Linked DNA regions of Homo sapiens. The protein of the gene in region 2 interacts with the protein of the main gene of each other region in a pairwise test. Each region holds a gene or a part of one and is shown on either strand. Other genes may lie near its edges.

What was found. Proteins that work in one complex are often made in the same cells at the same time.
Region 1: the proteins of ZDHHC15 (region 2) and TMEM222 interact in binary tests that used the Homo sapiens proteins (3 or more experiments, as listed by UniProt).
Region 3: the proteins of ZDHHC15 (region 2) and CLRN1 interact in binary tests that used the Homo sapiens proteins (3 or more experiments, as listed by UniProt).

Annotation. Positions count from the first base shown.
Region 1 is NC_000001.11:27,332,129-27,336,907, reverse strand, and holds the end of TMEM222 (transmembrane protein 222), read right to left. Parts: intron 2,951-4,779; coding exon 2,854-2,950; intron 2,758-2,853; coding exon 2,627-2,757; intron 2,242-2,626; exon of another isoform or gene 2,154-2,241; intron 1,530-2,153; coding exon 1,442-1,529; 3' UTR 508-1,441; downstream 1-507.
Region 2 is NC_000023.11:75,367,904-75,373,055, reverse strand, and holds the end of ZDHHC15 (palmitoyltransferase ZDHHC15), read left to right. Parts: intron 1-110; 3' UTR 111-4,629; downstream 4,630-5,152. UniProt on the Homo sapiens protein: Palmitoyltransferase that catalyzes the addition of palmitate onto various protein substrates.
Region 3 is NC_000003.12:150,969,721-150,977,692, forward strand, and holds the start of CLRN1 (clarin-1), read right to left. Parts: upstream 3,008-7,972; 5' UTR 2,989-3,007; coding exon 2,736-2,988; intron 1-2,735. UniProt on the Homo sapiens protein: May have a role in the excitatory ribbon synapse junctions between hair cells and cochlear ganglion cells and presumably also in analogous synapses within the retina.

The DNA.
Region 1 (4,779 bases), on a different chromosome or scaffold from region 2:
AGGGTTGGGAAAGGCTTCAGGGAGGAAGCGGCTTTTAAGCTGGGCCTTGGTTAGGCAGGGCCGCCATGAGAGGGATGGTGGAGAGCAAAGGATCGGAGGCAAGCGAAGGCTGGATGGATACAGTGACCAGAGGCTGGCAGTGCTCTTGGCTCATCCCCAACTCTGTACCCCGGCGGGTGGTGGGGACAGCAGTGGAGGCTCTACTCAGCCCTAACCCCAAGCCTACAAGTCCTTCCCAACAGGGACGATGGAAGGGGTTTCAATGCCCACCTGCCTCAAGAGGAAAGCTTTGGAATGGGGAATGGAGAATGGCAGGGAATCCCCAGACTTCAGGGGCGGGATATACCTGAGGGATGCTGATGGCCCCAGGCACTGGACGCAGACTCAACCATGGTGCTGGCAACTAGACCCTTGTCAAGGGTAATAGGGTCCCAAGAATACCAAGACGCTATGAGCTAAGGGGCAAGGGGGCCCCAGAGAGGGAGAAAACAATGACAGGGCACCAACTGGAGTCAAAACTCTTTATTGTCCTGCCCAGGGAGCCCTTCCCAAAGGAATCCACAGAGCAGGGGGGCGAGGCGGGCGGCACAGGGCCTTGGTGACAACGTGAAGGGGGAGCTGGAGTTAGGTGGGGGACAGCCCCTTCAGCTCCCTGATGGCACTGGCTGTGCTGGCAGGCCACCCAGGGGAGCCATCACCAGCATGAGGTCCACACCTGGGGCTGGGGCTGAGTGCTGTCTACACTGCTCTGTCTACACGGTTACTCTGGCACTTGTCAGGTCCACTCACCTCTCTGGCCTCAAACTGCAGGGGGAGATGGGTCCAATGCTGGGAGGCACTGGGAGGCCGTGGAACAGTGAAGAGCGGACTGCACGGGCTGGAGGATGCCAGATGGGCACACATGTCCCCCAGGGCAGCTGCCGGCAGGAGTCTGACAAAGGGACCCAGCCAGCCCCTCTGGACCATTCTAGAGGCCAGTGGTGAAGGTCCTGAAGCAACTTGGCTTATAGAGACACGTTAAGTGTACCCGGTGCACCCCATGCTGGGACCAGCTCTGGTCCCAGGGCCACCTTGACAGGTGAGCCCAAATGTCCTCCTCTCCCCATACTGGGCACTGGGCTGAGGCAGGACCCCAGCAGGTGGTGGCGGGAGCAGCTCTACAGCGGGAAGCCAAAGCCTTTCAACAGAAGAACAAAGGGGCTTCCAGGGCCGGAGTCACAGGCCTGGGGAGGAGGGGACAGGGTGCTTCTGAGAGGCAGGGAGACAACAAACCCCCACTTCATGCTGGTCCTCAGTCCTTCCATCCTGCCAGCCCCGACCCCCGGTCCACAACAGCAGGCCCAACCCTGCCTTTTGGGGTGAGGAGAAAAAAATCTGGAACCAAAAGGGATGGCGGCTGTTTCCTCGGGACCCTGGTGGGTGTGGGGCCACCGAGCAGCCATCACCGGAGGTTAAAGACCAGGCTGACGGTGAGGATGATGCCCAGGAGAAGGATGAAGGGCAGCCAGGTCTTCACGAAGGCCCCAACGCTGACAGAGAGAAAGGAGCGAGCATAGGTGGGCAGGGCCTGGTGAGCAGGCATGCGGCCCGCAGCCCTGAGCACCCACAGACCCCAATAGGGCTGCCATCCCTAAGGAAAACCCAACCACCCCCTCACCCCAAACTTGGCCAATCAAGGAAGCAGGCTGGGCATGGTTGCCCACTATGGGGGATCACCAGCTATGGTCCCGGGCAGGGGCTGCTCCGCGCTCCTGGTGATTTACTGACACCTCGCTGGTTGGGAACAGGAAACATGCTCCCCATTTCTAGGCCTCACTGGCTCCATCTATAGCCACCTACCTCTAGGGTCTCCAGCAAGAGGACCAGGAATTGCAGTTTGGGTATGGAAGCCACGTGTGCCCTCTGCCTATGGACTTCATAATGGGGACTACTGGGAGCTCTGGGGCTGGCAAGGGTCAGCAGTGTTGTGGCTGGAGCCAAGCAGCTGGGAGCCAGGGGTCTGGGTTCAACCTCTGTGTGACCAGTTATTCTCAGGGGACTTCTAAAAGCCATGCAGTACTTAAAAATATCCCTAAAAGTCTTCTTTTCAGAACCTCTTAATGATGAACGTGGCTAAGAGGAAAGCTTGGAGAGGCGGCCAGATCAGCACTAACCTATGCTGGCTCACGAGTCTGGGCTCTGCTGTGTCCATGCTGTGGCGACCATGGGCGACTCACTCAATCTCTCTGCCTAGGAAGGGACCTGTGGGGCAGTCATTATGAGAGGATCTATCTGCTCACTTTACCGGAGCACAGGGATCCGTAGAAGCCTCCCTGAGGAGCCGGAATCATTGCCTGCATTTCACCAGAGACAGCTGTGGCTAAGAGAGACCAAGGCAGTTGCCCATGGTCTCACAGCAGGCAAGAGCCAGAGCTGCATTTGGGGCCCAGGTGGAGCTGGACTTCAGCACAGCCACCTCCCTCTCCATCAGGCCCTCAGCTCGTCACTCTAGAACCACCACGGCTCCAACTGGCATCTGTTCCAACTGTCCTGGCTGACTGAAGGACGCTAGGAATGGTCTTTCTAGGATCCTTGGGAGAGCAGCCTCTGGGCAGTGTGTGGGTGGGCAGGCAGGAGGGCAGCTCACCTGACGTACTTCCCGTAGAGCAGGCAGAAGAAGCAGAGCGTCACCATATTCCAGTTGGTGCTGTTGTTGTAGCGCATCAGATTCAGGGCCAATGCCACGTGCGAGTGGCAGTTGTCACAGCAGAGATTGTGCTGGAGGCACCAGAAGGGCTGGTCAGGATGGGCTGCAGGGGAGCCTCCCCCCTGGTCCCCACCTGGGGAGTGCCGGTGCCGCCCTGGCCCACCTACCATGCGGTGCTTGTACTCCTCAGAGGCGTCGTGCACAGCCGTGTCCCATGCGTTGGGCCCGCTAGCATAGACCTGAGCAGGGTCCAACTTCCAGTACCTGGGGGGAGAGAAGGGCTCTGGACACTTGCTTGGCTCCTTTGTGCCCTCAGCTCTACGCACGTCCTCTGAGGCCTGCCCTGTGCCCGGGCCTGAGCTGGGTGCTGAGATGTACAGTAAGCCAGATCTGGGGCAAGTGTTATGTGGCAGTCAACTGTGACACAGGGTGAGGTGGCTGGTGCCATGGGGGATCCTGGGGGGATATGGAATGAAATTGGGGGTGCTATGCTCTGAAAGTCTGTGTCCCCAAGTTCATATGTTGAAATCTTAACCCTCAAGGTGATGGTATGAGGAGGTGGGGCCTTTGGGAGGTGATTAGGCCATGGGGTGATTAGCTCTCATGAATGGGATCCGTGTCCTTATAAAAGAGCCCTGAGGGAGACCCCTCACCCCTCCACCACGTGGGGACACAGTGGAAAGGCACCTCAGGCCCTCACCAGACACTGACTCTACCAGCACCCGCACCCAGGACTGTCCAGTCTTCGGAACTGTGAGAAATACATTTCTGTTGTTTCTAAGATACCCAATTGATGAGATTTTGTTATGGCAGCCAGAACGGACTAAGATGGGGTGTGAGAAGGCTTCCTGGAGGTGACACCTGGGTCCAGTATGAAGGAAGAGGGTTAGGCAGGCATAGAAAGAAGAGGTGGGCATTCCAGGCTGAGGGAACAGCTTAAGCTAAGTGACAGGCATAAAACTGTGCAGCATGTCCCATAACTGAAGTGACTGAGCCCTCCTGGAGGATGCAGAAAGAGAAACACGGTGATGGAATGCTGGCAGCTAAGGCTGGAGATGCAGGTGAGGCCACATCACGCGGGGAGTTTACCCAGCAGCAAGCACTCTCCCCTAGTCTCCCAGGCAGCTTGCCAGGGTGAGTGGCAGGGAAGCTGATGGTGCTAAAGCCCATAAACCTCAAGGTGGGTGAGAATTGCTGTTCCAAGCACCAGAGTGCCCGGTGGGTCTCAGGCCAAGGAGAGCTGGGAGGTCAGGGCGCCCCCTGGCTGTTGTGTAGGGGAATGGCTTGGTGGAGGAGTCTAGAGACCATGGCCTGGACTGGGGCCGCTTAGGGGCTACTGCTTGGAAAATGATGCCCTTAAAACTGTCCTTGAAGAGCAGTCTGGCAGCGAACACCTGGTGGCCCAGAGACTCCTGGACTACACTGCTGCCTGCCGGAGGAAGCCAGAGAGGGCAGCAGGAAGCCCTGCTCCAGGCCATCTCAGCTGTGTGGGACACCAACTCCTCCTCGGCCCAGTCTCTCCTCCCAGTGCAGCCTTGGGCAACAGGTCACCTGAGGACACTGATGACTGAGGCACTCTCACCAGGCCCACAGCTGAGGTGGGCACCCGAGACTGCAAAGATGAAGACCAAATGTCCCAAACCAAACCAGCAATAGCTCCCAGAAGGTTGAACGGTTTTTATTCTCTCCAACCAGAACTTTCCAGCAGAGCTCCAAACAATGCCTCTCTTCTACCTTCCATGCCTCATTTGTTCCCAAAGGGCAGGAGAGTGAGTCTAGAGGGAGACAGATCTGGGTGTGGGTCCCAGCTCTGCCACTTCCTGTGTGACCTTGACCAAGTCCCTTCCCTTTCCTCACCCTTGCCATGGAGTTGAAAATACAAACCTGAAGAGCTGTGGCAAGGCCCAGATGGTCTACAGGTAAAGGCCCTAGCCAGGGGCTGGTGCGGTACACACTCTGTATGGGGTTGCCATGCTCTGGTGGACCCTGGCTGACCTCTCCCCCGACCCCAAATACTCTATTCTCAGGGTGCTGGCCCCTCCTGTGCCCCAGAAGGCCTGGCCCGCCCCGGCAGGAGCGACCTGCCTCTAGAG
Region 2 (5,152 bases):
CTCTTCATAAATGTAATTTTAATGGTTGCATATTATTGTCAAGTGGGTGTTACCACATGAATATTTACAGTTGTTCAGCTCATCTGTGAATTTCTTCTCTTCATTCCCAGGACTCACCATCTCTGCCTCCCATGAGGCTTACAGAGTTCAATGTTGGAAATCATTGTAATCTTCAAAATAAGTCACCGTGTTGGATTGAAAGCTTCAAAATTTGAAAGAATTCCATCAAATACTTGCTGTGTAAATGTTTCTGGACTTTATGTTATTTAATTTACTGACTGAAATCCAATTTGGAATTTGGTAGCAGTTAATTCAAGCCAATTTTTTTTGTTTCTTCATTTCCCCTCCCCCAATCCATGAAAGCCTAAATGTAAAATATATCTTTTCATTCATCTTATCAGGTAAAAGGAAATTCAGAAAATTTCCTTAGAGTCTTTAATTCCCCCACAAAGATTATTAATCACATATATAGGGCCTTTTTGGTGTTGAAGGGAATCAAACTACATTTGCTGCTTGTGTGCGTGTGCATTTGTGAACACGTACAGCATATCTATACAAAATTCTGCTATAGTGTGAAAATCAGGGCTAAAAACCTGAAGCCTTTGTTTAATTATGCTTTTCCTCTAAATAGCAACTTAAATATTTGCTAGACTTTGAATCATCGCTATATCAAGTATCTAAAATTTGGGAGGGTGAATCAGTACACTGTGACCAAGGTCCTCAAATTGGAATTTGAACAACAATGTAAAACCTGTTCTGTCACAAATGTTCCTGAAAGCACCACAGCTACTCAAGAAGATCAAATTCAGGACATAAACTTTATTGAACATAATAACCAGTGTTTTTTAAAGACTTTTTTGTCAGGGTGCAGTAAAATTCTCCAATTACTTTTATTCATTTATCTGCTTCCTAGTTTTATTTTAGCCTTTATGAGTTATTTTATGATGAAAGAAAATCTATAAGCCTAAGTTATGGCCCATAGGTTTTGTTAAGGGTTTTCAGAGTGATTTTCAGGTTTAATTTCACTGCCTTTCATAAGGGTAAAGTTTCACAGCTGACATTAGCCTGAGGATTAGCACTAAAGAGCTGTGTTTTCATAGCAGGGGCTATTGTACAGACAGTGATAACCAAATAGTAATATGCCAGTTCTTTCTTCTTTTTTTAGCTTCAGTAGTAGCTAAGCCATTAATACAGTTTGCATCAATTTCCCCATTTATTTATAATCAGCCTTTCTTTTAGTCCTAGTGCCTGAATCAATGAGTGAGAATACTAGTACTGATTCTTTACAATAATAATATCTTAAGAGTATTGATATCTTTCATTTTTTCATCCAGCAGTCTAGTGCCCAGCTGCTGACAATAAAAGCTCCAACTCTTTTAGAGATCAGTGGAATTTAGAAGCATCTTACAGGTATCAAGGAATTGAGCTTCTAGAGGGATGGTTTGGCTTACTAATTTATCTTCCCTGAAATATGTTTGAGTAAAAAAGAGTTGCCTGCCACAATTTAGTGTTGGGGTTCCAGTGGAGCTGAGAAAGTGAACAATCCAGCTACTTAAAGCAACAACAAAACCTGTTCATCTGGATCCCTAGGTAATTTTGACCAAGGTGAGACTTTTGGCATAAATTAAATGGATTGTGGTCAGCATTACATTTGAGAGAATACTAGACATGACTACACTTATTAGGGCTAGTGACTTTCTCAAACTCAGAAGCTAAAAAGCAGCCTAGATGACTATGCACACACTGGGTTTCAAGATGAAATCTTCTTATATATTCAGATGGAAAAAAATTTCCCCTTACACTCTTTCTCAAAATACTCTCATTTCGGTTTTTCCTGAAACCTTATTTGGCCATTCCCATGGTTTTATGACAGACAAGCCTTGTCTTCTATTCATATAGATATGCACCTTTTTCTACATGTATGGCCTTTACTTACTACACAGCAAGTAGGCCTCAAAGTAATCTTCCTCTTTCCCATCAATCATCTTCTGCCAAGCATTCAGGCAGAGCAGCTGTTAACTGTGATTCAAAGTCAGAAAAACATCAAGAACTTCTTTGATGCATAGGGTGTATCAGCACTCAGCTCCCACAGAAGTCAAGTCACAAAATATAGTGTCAGTTAACTATAAGGAAGTTCCGGAGAGGTAAAGCTCAGGAAAGATGTAATGCAAAGCTGATTGTTTAATGTCTTACAGATTTACACTGTCTTTAAAAGGCCAAATAAGGCTGGGCGCAGTGGCTCACACCTGTAATCCCAACATTTTGGGAGCCCAAGGCGGCCGGACCACCTGAGGTCGGGAGTTCAAGACCAGCCTGACCAACATGGAGAAACCCTGTCTCTACTAAAAATACAAAAATTAGCCAGGAGTGTTGGTGCATGACTGTAATCCCAGCTACTCAGGAGGCTGAGGCAGGAGAATCGCTTGAACCTGGGAGGTAGAGGTTGTGGTGAGCTGAGATCGTGCCATTGCACTCCGGCCTGGGCAATAAGAGTGAAACTCTGTCTCAAAAAAAAAAAAAAAAAAAAAAAAAGCCAAATAAATCAGGGTTTTACCAGGGGCTCAGAGATAAAAAGAAAACCTATTCCTATCTTAGCATTTTGGTCTCATTGGTTTATAGACTCTGATAATATCCCTATCCATGGATCATTTGAGTATTGACTAATGTACATAGGTACCCAACTGGTTGATTATTAATCAAGAATACAGAACTTTATTTAATAATTAGCACACCCTGATCTGGCTTCTTTGCTTGCTTTTCTTTGGATCCCTGTCCAATAACCTCTGTGGAATCTCATTCCCTAATTGTTGATACTCATTTTCTCCGTTTGCAAAATGAAGATACTCATTGTTAGGATCCTACTGCTGAAGGGTGCTATGTCACTTTCTAGTGCTCTTATATGTCTTTAATTATAGGACTGGAATGAAAAGCTTAACCATACAGTATTTCTAAGCAAAATAATGTACTCCATTCTTTTGTCCATGCTCTCATTGCTGATTTGTTCTTGCAGGACTTAGAGCACTTTGTTAATGTTCTTCCATTCACTCCAACAGCGTCCTCAGAAAGAGACAGAATAAAAAAATTGTTCCCCATGGTACAGCTGGAAAAATTAAGGGGAAAAGAGATTAAGTGGTCCCCAATGGAACACAGCTGTCTTATGCAGGGCTCACAGTTACCATGTTCAGTACATTGTTAAAGTAACTTGGCTTCCCAGGACTGGAATTATCATGGAGCAGTTAGAATTTTGAGAGTAATTACAACAGGATCACATTCTGAAAGAGTCACATTTTGTCAAAAATCTGAAAAGTATGCAATTTGTACAACTCTTACTTTCTATGTGATAAGAATGCAATATGTGCCTCTTTCCCCTACTAGCCCCATGTGACACATATTTTTCACACTATGTGGCATCAACCAGTGCCATTACCTCCTGTGGCACCATAGAGCCCAATCTCAGGGCAGACATTGCCAAGGTAAAGAATGCACTCCATGTTTATACCAAATTGCACAAAGTATAGACATTGAGGTTAATGGAGATTTAAGCACAATCCTAGCAAGTAAGTTTTAAGAATACTGAATATTATACATTATTGTAACATGAACCTAAAATTAATTTAACAGGGCCCAAATTCATAGGAATGTAACAGTCATTGAAAGCCTATTCTTTTCACCTCTCATCACACATATCTACATACATGTATGCACATGTACACACACACACACACACACACACACACACATACACATTTTCTCCAAAGCAGGCTGCCTCTTCAGCAGGAGCAAATACTTTAATTTAAAAGAATGATTATCTGTTTTCTCCTTTTAGAAAAAGAGTCTAAGAAACACAGCATGTGAAGAACATTAGATTTATACATTCCAGAATCTCTGCTCTCAGAGTAGCTAAGAGATTCGGTACAGAAGACGTTCTATGGAGAAGCACAGGGGGCATCTAATGAGATTGTCAGGCCCTTGGACAAGATCCATATTCTTAGAAAATTAATGAGTTCCATCTCGTTAGGAATTGGTTGATGAGGTATGGTACATCTGCATTTCTTTAACCATAGCTGTAATGTACCATATTAAATTGTAGCCTTTTGCATGCGGGTATTATATAATAATGAATGGGTGGCTCCTAGTAGCATGCAACCCATGACTGTTTACTTCCCTAAAAGGGTTAGGTCTGTGTCCTGCACAGTGTTCAAAACCATTAAATGTGTTCTTTGTAGCAGGATGGTACACAGCCATCAGCAGAATGAGTTAAAACCAACAATGAATTCAATATACCAGGAAATAGATTGTTAGTAGGGAATGGCATTAAAGGAAAAAAAAATTAGATAAGATGCATTCAAGGAATAATTACTTTCACTCTGCTGGCTTAATCAGTGAAGGAACATAAAAGGAAAGCTGGCAGTGGGTCTTGGTAATATATGAACTATATTAGAGTGCCAGAAAAGGAGACCTCAGAAGTTAAGCATAGGTTGCCAATCTGCTACAATTATTTTTCCCACCAATCTGCTCAAAATGATTGTATATAGTATTCTTAAAACCATGTGTCTTGGTGCAGAAATATTGACAAATGCTGGCCAGCTTTATCTTCCTATATCCTTCATTAAAAGTATATGCATATAATTGTTGGTTTTTTTTCCTAAATTGTGGCTTTGTTAAACAATGTTGACAAACCCTAAAGTTTCAGACTACTCTAAGGAAGTTTCTATACATCTAATTTCATAGGGGTATAGTGATGTTTGTTCACTCAGGTTGATTGGTATGCGTGGTATGTAGACTTCTCTGTAACATCTCACCTTCTGAACAGCCCCTTCCATGTGTTCGGTATTTCTGTCTTATGTTCCTACATGAATATGAATTGGGAAATTAGCTGCAATGGCTTTTAGATAGAAAGCTGACCAGTCTAGTGACACTTAATCACATTCAGTCTCTACTCAGCCTCACACATCTTTTGCCTTTCACTCTGCCATTGTGATGAAAGGAAAAAGAAAGAACTTTTCTTATGTGCCTAAGGGTGAAGTGAACTCTGGTTTGCTTTTTCTTACACTGAAGGCTATGTGTACTATTCTCCAGATGCATGTCACCTGAAAAAAGATACATAGAGGGGAACAACAGACACTGGGACCTATCAGAGGGTGAAGGGTGG
Region 3 (7,972 bases), on a different chromosome or scaffold from region 2:
ATTCCTATTAATTGATAATAACATGACAACACAAAGAAAACTTGCCATGAGACCAGCCTGGCCCACATGGTGAAACCCTGTCTTTACTAAAAATACAAAAAAAAAATTAGCTGGGCATGGTGGTGCACGCCTGTAGTCCCAGCTACTTGGGAGGCTGAGGCAGGAGAATCGCTTGAACCCAGGAGGGGTAGTTGCAGTGAGCCGAAAAAACTGGCCACGAAGTGATTGTTACCTTGATAAGTTACCTTTTCCATTCCTCTTACACTGGTAAGATTCTGTGAATTCAAATGTTTGCTTAATAACTTTCTAAAGGCACAATAAGAAAGAAGACATTCTGGGAAATGAATTGTGCACTAATTGTAAGTTGAGCTCTGGAAGAAACAGAAAAGAGTCATCCACCTGAGCTCTCTGGAGGTCCCTGCTTTTTGCTCCAAGGAAGCCACTACTGAGAAAGTAAGGTTAGATCTTTTATTCATTTATATGAACAGGGCTTATACATTTCTATCAGGAAGAATATCAGAGGATTCTCATCCAAGCAAACGTTGATGAAACATCATTGACAGGGTAATGACATTCTGAATGGAAAAAACGTGAACCACAAAGCTGCGTTGCAATGGGAGTGTAAACTTTGAGGGTGCAATGTGTCCCAAAGGCATGTTGATTAGAAAGTTTTAACACTGAGAGGGGTGTTTATTTAAATGAATATTATCCTCTTTGGGGAGTCCATTGGATCTATTTATTTTGGTTTTCCCAACTCTGTCTCATGCTGCATTGAAAAAGATACTTTTATGCTTAGGAAAAAAAAAAAAGCTCTACTGTAAGTATTCTTAGCTGGGCCTCACCAAAATGAATGAGATTTTTAACATGTATAGTATATACAGTACACTTAATATGTATAGTCTATTGTATATTGATGGAGCTGTCACTGCAGAATGAACAAGTAAATGGAAGATTTTCTTCACTAGGCTAGGGGGAGAATGTCAGGGGTATCTGGGAGCTAATGAAATTCTGTGAGATAAGTGAGGGTACTGTTTAAACCCCACCAGTTCTGCAAGTCCTCACAGAAAGCAAAAGGAGGGGCACCCAATTAGAACAACTTCATCCTTAGACAGGACAAGCATAGGACACAACCACAAAAATCATTCGCTAAACCCCAGAAGAATGTGGCTGTGTAAGGATTAAATGAGACAAAGCATATAAAGTGCTTAGTATGTAGTAAGTGTTCAGAAAACATCTTATTATTGTTTTGAAACATGTCCTATGGCATGAGTAAAGTTTATCTCCATTTCACTGTAGAAAATGTAAAGGCTCCAGAAAATTCACCAGTACCTTCTCCGCTTTTGTCTAAATTCATCTGTGAGAAGCTTTACTCACGCTTTGGCTGCCGGTGACTCACGGTTAAATCATCTCTCTCAACTTTTTTCCTTTTCGGTTTTTTAATACAGTTGCATATCACATGACATTCTGCTTTGTTTTCTTCCTTCCCCTTCCCCAGGAAAACTAAGCAACTCTAACAGCCCCATTACCTTAATGAATAAAAGCCATTCAGTGAAAAGAACTGGTATCCACTTCATCAATTAAAAAGCTAACAACCAATTCTTGGAAATTTTCTGGAGCCCTATGAAAATTCATATCACTTAGTAACCTATGTGAGCTGAAGGTTGGTGTCCAATGACTGCTAAGAAGATATAAGGAATGTTGCAGAAATATAAATAGACCAGCACTGAAATTTAATTAGGCACTGCATATGTTAATAATAAATTCAATTAATTTAGCCTTCTACCTATACTAGAAAGAAAAAAAAAACCTGGGCAAAATAATAATTCATTTTAAATGCTTCAGTTGGTAACCTCCTTTCCTGAAGAGTGATTTATGCAGTAATTTACTGACTGTGTCTTCATAAGGTTGTTCCAAACCAGCCCTTCTGAAATAATAATAACTTCTGAATGTGTGTTGTAAGAGATATAACAAATGACTTCCTATTAATTTTCATTTAATGAGTTGCCTATTCACATGGTAATTTTTAAAAATTCTCTTCTTAAGATAAACAGGTTATAAATACTGTGGATTACACTTCCATTTCACAAAAATCACAACAAGAAAATCTCTCTCATATTCTCTACATGATTTGCAGGTCAATCAGTTTAAAATGTTCTATACTAAATAGGCATCCATTTCTTTCCCAGTTAGCACAGCAGATCATTTTAAATTTCTATAGCCAAATGATTCCAAATTAGTTAAAAATGAAAACTGAATATTTAGCAGCAGGAAAGGTCTTAGCAGGAATAATGGGAGGGAGTGGGGAGCAGGAAACAAAATCATGAGAAAGGTGGCAACCTGGTTAAATACGGAGCCCATGACCTTGGTTCTTTTTATAAAGAACAAAAAGCATAAAGATCATTCTTTACAGCTTTCCTATTTCCCCAAGTTTACTTTTTTAAAAAGACTCCATAATTTTTTACATAAATATTAATACTTAAGCATCTTAATTGCCAATATTTCCAAAAACCTTAATTATGTAACAATGAATTAACTCTATATTATAATAAAAAGCAAGTATAAAATAATAAAAACTAGGAAGAAGAAATTGCTCAGAGTCATAGGTTTTTCATATGGTTCACACCGATTTAAAAAGTCCTGCAGTAAACACGGCAAAATTCTCAAATATAATTCCTCGCAACACTGGGAAGAGTCTGCCTAAAGCATTAAATAACTCAAATGCAATTGCTACTTACATGAGAACCGAAAGGGCCTTGCTCCCAACCCACACTGCCTCACACCCTCTCCGTGGAAAAGCCCGTACTGCATTTCACCCATAAACTTGTCCAGCTCCTGCCCTGAGGCATTGACGAGCAGAGCTCCCGTTTTGCAGAGGACAGTGGCTTTGATCCACAACGGTGTCCCCAAGGCTGTCACAACTCCGAGGGCACATGCAAAACTGAACACTCCGGCCATGCAAAAAATGATTTTCTTCTGTTGGCTTGGCATGATGAGAAACGGCTTCTGTGAGGGCGAGGTTCAAAAACAAGACCTTTGTGAGCAATGGGAAGGGACTGCCTCTTTGACTGCATTTATTACGGAAGCTGAACGGACAGCTCCCAGCTGAAAAGGCAACTTCACCATCGACGGTTCTCGCCAGGTTAAATGTCAGTAGATGAAGGCCTCATCATCACTCATACTTGGCTTTTCTCCTTTTCTGCTGCTTCTTCTCCCTAATTGGAAATCTTTGGACTAAGAATCTGTAAAACAAGTCTTTCAAACTGCCTTCAAGTATCTCCTCTGTGTCACTTGGTAACAAAGGTCGAAGATAACAGATGGAGTCCTCAGTGTAACTTGATAAATGTTTCCCTTCCTCAGCCTTTTGTCTGATTGGGTGAGTTGAAACTTTCAGAAACAGGCTTGAATCTGATGGTACATTTTCAGCAACTTGAGAAGTTCACTTATCGATGTTTTTATTTTTGTTTTTTGTTTGTTATTGTTTTTGGTGGTGGGGGAAGGAGCTTTAGCAGAGGTAGGGAGAACATATGTACCTGTATTGATAGTTGATGTCAAAAATTTTTAATTACAGCAGGATAAAAATATTAAACAGAATTTGGTCCTACACGAATATTAAGTGCTCTGGATCAACCATGGGTCCTTGTCCTTCCAACTTAATTTCTCCCAGATCCATGGTTTATACCTAATGTATCAATAGAGAATTTGATTCAAATTTTTCTTGGCATACAGAAATATGAAAATGCAGGAGCAGATATCTAGATTTCTAAATGCTTTCCTTTAACAGGCTTAGCTGCTTTAGGATAATAGCAAGGGAATGTGTTTCTGGGTCCAAGGAATACCAGGATCTGTAAAGATAAGGGCATATTGATGGAAAGAGGGATGGTGGTCAGATAGGTGACTCTATGGATTCATCATAAAAATGCACAGGTCTCAGCAAAGGTAATCTGTTTGGGAGACTAGAGACAGTTATGAGCAAAGATTAAGCAGCAGGTAGGTCTGGTTAAACGGTCAAGACCTGGAAACTAAAGTTCAGAATTCAGTAACAGCTTTTTAACTTTGCATTTCCAATGAGATTCCTCCTTCTACAGACACAGGACTGTGTGTGTGTGTGTGTGTGTGTGTGTGTGTGTGTGTGTGTGTGTGAAGTGTCTAGTGAATGTTTATTATATGCCATGTTATTGTCCTGAGCTCTGACCTACAAAGTTAATGTTTAGTAAGAACTTATGTCTGGCAACTTGTGAAGTATTCTACCTAAATTATCATATGTAATTCTCATAATTAGCATATAAAGTAATGAAGAAGAGGAAGAAGAAGAGGAGGGAGGAGGAGAAGAAGGAGGAGGAGGAGGAGAAAGGAAGAAGGAAGAAGAATAAGAAAGAAGAAAGAAGAAGAAAAAGCAATTATTCGTATCTTATATATAAGGGAATTGAGGCTCAGAGAGTTTAAGCAACTTGCTGAAGAGAGTAGTGGAGCTGGGATTCAAATCCAGGTCTTCTACTTCTGAGGTTGATGTTCTATTCCAAGCAAAGCCCCTGACCTTGAAAAGATGGCAAACATTTCAGTTTGGGTTGGGTTCGTCTAGGAGTAACAGGGGCAGACTAGCCCATTATTAGTTACACATATTGAGTGTTTGAAGAACACAGACATCAGTAAATAGAACTTTTTCAGTTGGCCAAAAGCACATGTGTATGCTAGCTTCTATTCTTTTGATCCACCTTTAAGCATGACAGCTTAGAGGAAATTAATAAATGAAGACTTATTTCACACCATTTTCAGCATAAATGAGTCTCTACATTATGCACACTTCGAAGGGAACTTTGAGGTATAGACTCGGAGTACTGGTAAACTTCTCTCACAGCTCGCCTCTCCTAGGAGTCGCAACAGCCAGTCTCGTTAAGGACAGACAACTAAGTATAGAACTCATTCTAGAATGCCAATGTACCTTCGGGGAGAAGAGGGGCAATATAAAACATGGCCACAGAAGAACTGGGCATATAGAAGATTCCAAAGAGGCACTTAAAATAAAGTTTACAATATTAGTAAGTCTTTTTTATTTTGTATAACTTAACACAGAATAAGCAACTCATCCCAGTTTATTTGGCCTTCCAATGAATTCACCACTGGATTTAGAATAATTGCTAGAACACAGAATAAGCAACTCATCTCAGTTTATTTGGCCCTCCAATGAATTCACCACTGGATTTAGAATAATCGCTATCATGGTCCACTAGCAAAACAAGGGGGTGCCAGTGCCCCTGATAAGTGGTTATTTGGGCATATATGTGCCACAGTCACCCTAGAAAACTTAGTTTAAGATGTCTAAGCAGAGCTGAGCTTACTAAATCAACATATTCTGTAATTGGAAGAGACAGAACATTTCCAAAGCCTGGGAGAAGAAATCACCTACAACTTAATCAATACTATTAATAACCTCTACTAAAGGATATGGCAAGAGAAGGATAGTTAGCATAGGACAGCGGTTTAATTAACCCAAACTCAGCCAAGTATATCTAAAGCTGTCCAAGGAGGAAAGCCTTGATTATGGGTGTAGAGAGCAATTAGATCACATCAGTTGCATCAGTTTGCATCAGTCTGTAGCGACATGTTCACTCGTCTGTAGAGACATGGGAAAAATAAATACAACATACTGAGTTACTCTTATATCCTGAAGTTAGGCCCTTCCTAATTTTTATTGTTGAAATTTTCTTTCTTTAATGAGATAATGGTAGTTGAATTTTTAATGATTTTATTTGACAAATTTAGAAACTGGCAAACCTATGTCTACTCCTGATTTAAAACAAAACCAAATCAAACCCACTGCTCTATGACATAAAAGATCCCTGAGTGGAAAGGGTGAGACTCACCCTTTGAGGCCTAAAACCTCACCCTTTGCTTTGACACGGTGGTTCTCAGTTTTGCTGCTCATTAGAATCACTTGAGAAGATTTTAAAAGTACTGATGTCTGTGTCCTCATCCCTGAGATTCAGATTTATTTGATTTTAGAGTATGGCCTTAGCGTCGAATCACCCCAGGTGATTGCATTGTGCAGCCAAGGTTGGAAGCCACTGCCCTTATCTCCTTTTCACATGGCTATCTACTGATTACAAACTAGGCTTTGCAGGCATCTCAGTGCTGGAATGCACACAGACATGAGCATCTGGGTCGCTAGAGAGGAATATGCTCATAGCAAATTAATAAATAGGCACTACCATTTACAGCTCAAACTTTCCTACATTTTTTCAGCACTAGGTTTCAGCATATCCACAACAAAAGACCAGGCCCCGATTCATAGATTTACCCCCAAATCACCATATGAATATCAATGGTGCTGTATCCTGTTCATGTGAGGCAGCCCCCCTCACCTCTTCTCCATGCAGCTTCCTTTCAAACTTCAGCATCAGCCACCCACAGGCTGCGTAGTAGTGTGTGTGATCCACCCTCTGAGAATGATATAATGGAACCTGGCAGTCATTATGCCTGACAGCCTTCTTTTGAAATTTCATCTTAAATGTCTTGAATGACAGTGATGACACCATTTTCCTTGCAGTCTCTCTGAGAATTTGAGTCATTAATGTCAGCAAGTTTTCACCAAGTATCCTGCTGAAATCTTTACTTCTCTCAATCTTAATAGGAATACATTCGGTGACATAAGAAAATGGAACTAGGCCTCCCCCTCCTCTGACCCCTTTCAGGTGCTGGATAATGATATAATTCTTCAGAGTGACTAGAGATTCTGTAGAGAAAGGAGCACAATTGCAGACTCTGTTTTCACTTCCAGTGTAGCATTTGTGCCTCTTCTCACACTAACTTGGCTGCATCAGTTTTTCCTTATAACCATTTGAAAACAAAAGAAAAAAAGCAGCCCCATTACAAAGGGATGCAAATTCTCACCTGGTTTGTTCGCCAAGTATAAGAGACAGTATAGCATGGCATGGGAAGATCCTGTCCAGGGTCTATTTCCAGCTGTATGGCTAAATTAAGAATTCCTTCTCTGGCATTAATTTTACATATTTATGAAAAGAGTGGTCTGGGCTGCATAGGTGATTCTCAAATCATTTTTAAGAAGAAAAACCATTGCCTCAACACAACTTGTGTGAAATAAGACAAAAATCGAGCTGCTATACTGGGAGGGTGGGTGATCAAGGAGTTGTCACTGGGCTCCCCAGCTCCCTACTCCCTACAGTGTCCTATCCCCAACGTGAAAGACAGCTTCGAGAAGCACAGTTTGGCTCCTTTAGTTCCCATTTAACTAAAGAAAAAAAAATTTAATAAGCCATAGAACTACAGTTTGGCCATTTGCTAGATTATGTCTCTTTTTTCTTTGCTGTGCTAACCTGTTAGCTATTACGGAATATTGCATTGCCCAGGGACACTGCATGGCTGATTATTCCAATTATTAATTTTTAGATTATTTAATGAGAGGTTCTATGTTTTGTCTGATTTGTCACTGGTAGTACTGATTTTGATTTTCCTCCAAATGGATCATTATACTCCAAGGCCTCTCTAAGAGAGATTCAACAAGGGTCTATCAAGCTTCCTATTCTAAGACAAGAGGCCTTTGTAAATCTACCCCATTTTTCTCATCTTTAAAGCAAAATCTGGCAAATTTGATTGACGTGCCTTGACTAATTCAAGTTGCTGGTGATCCTCAAGTAGCATTGTAATTTTCTAATGACTGTAAAGGAAAAAAACACTCCATGGAAAGAATTGATTGATTTATTAGAGAGAAAATTACCACATGTGCTAGACCTTGATTGCAGCTAATATTTGTAGAGCTAATTGCTTGAACTAGAGGATTAAAAGGATTGAGGGAAAGGAAGAAAAAGAAAACAAAGTTCTCTTGGAATACAGATGAACCCGCAGTGGATTTGGACTGAGAGGAGAGAATTCAGTACAGGGATTTTTGGGGCTGATGATGGTTGTGGAGACATTTAGAATAAGTGAAAGAATTGTGCTTCTGACACAAAAGCCACAG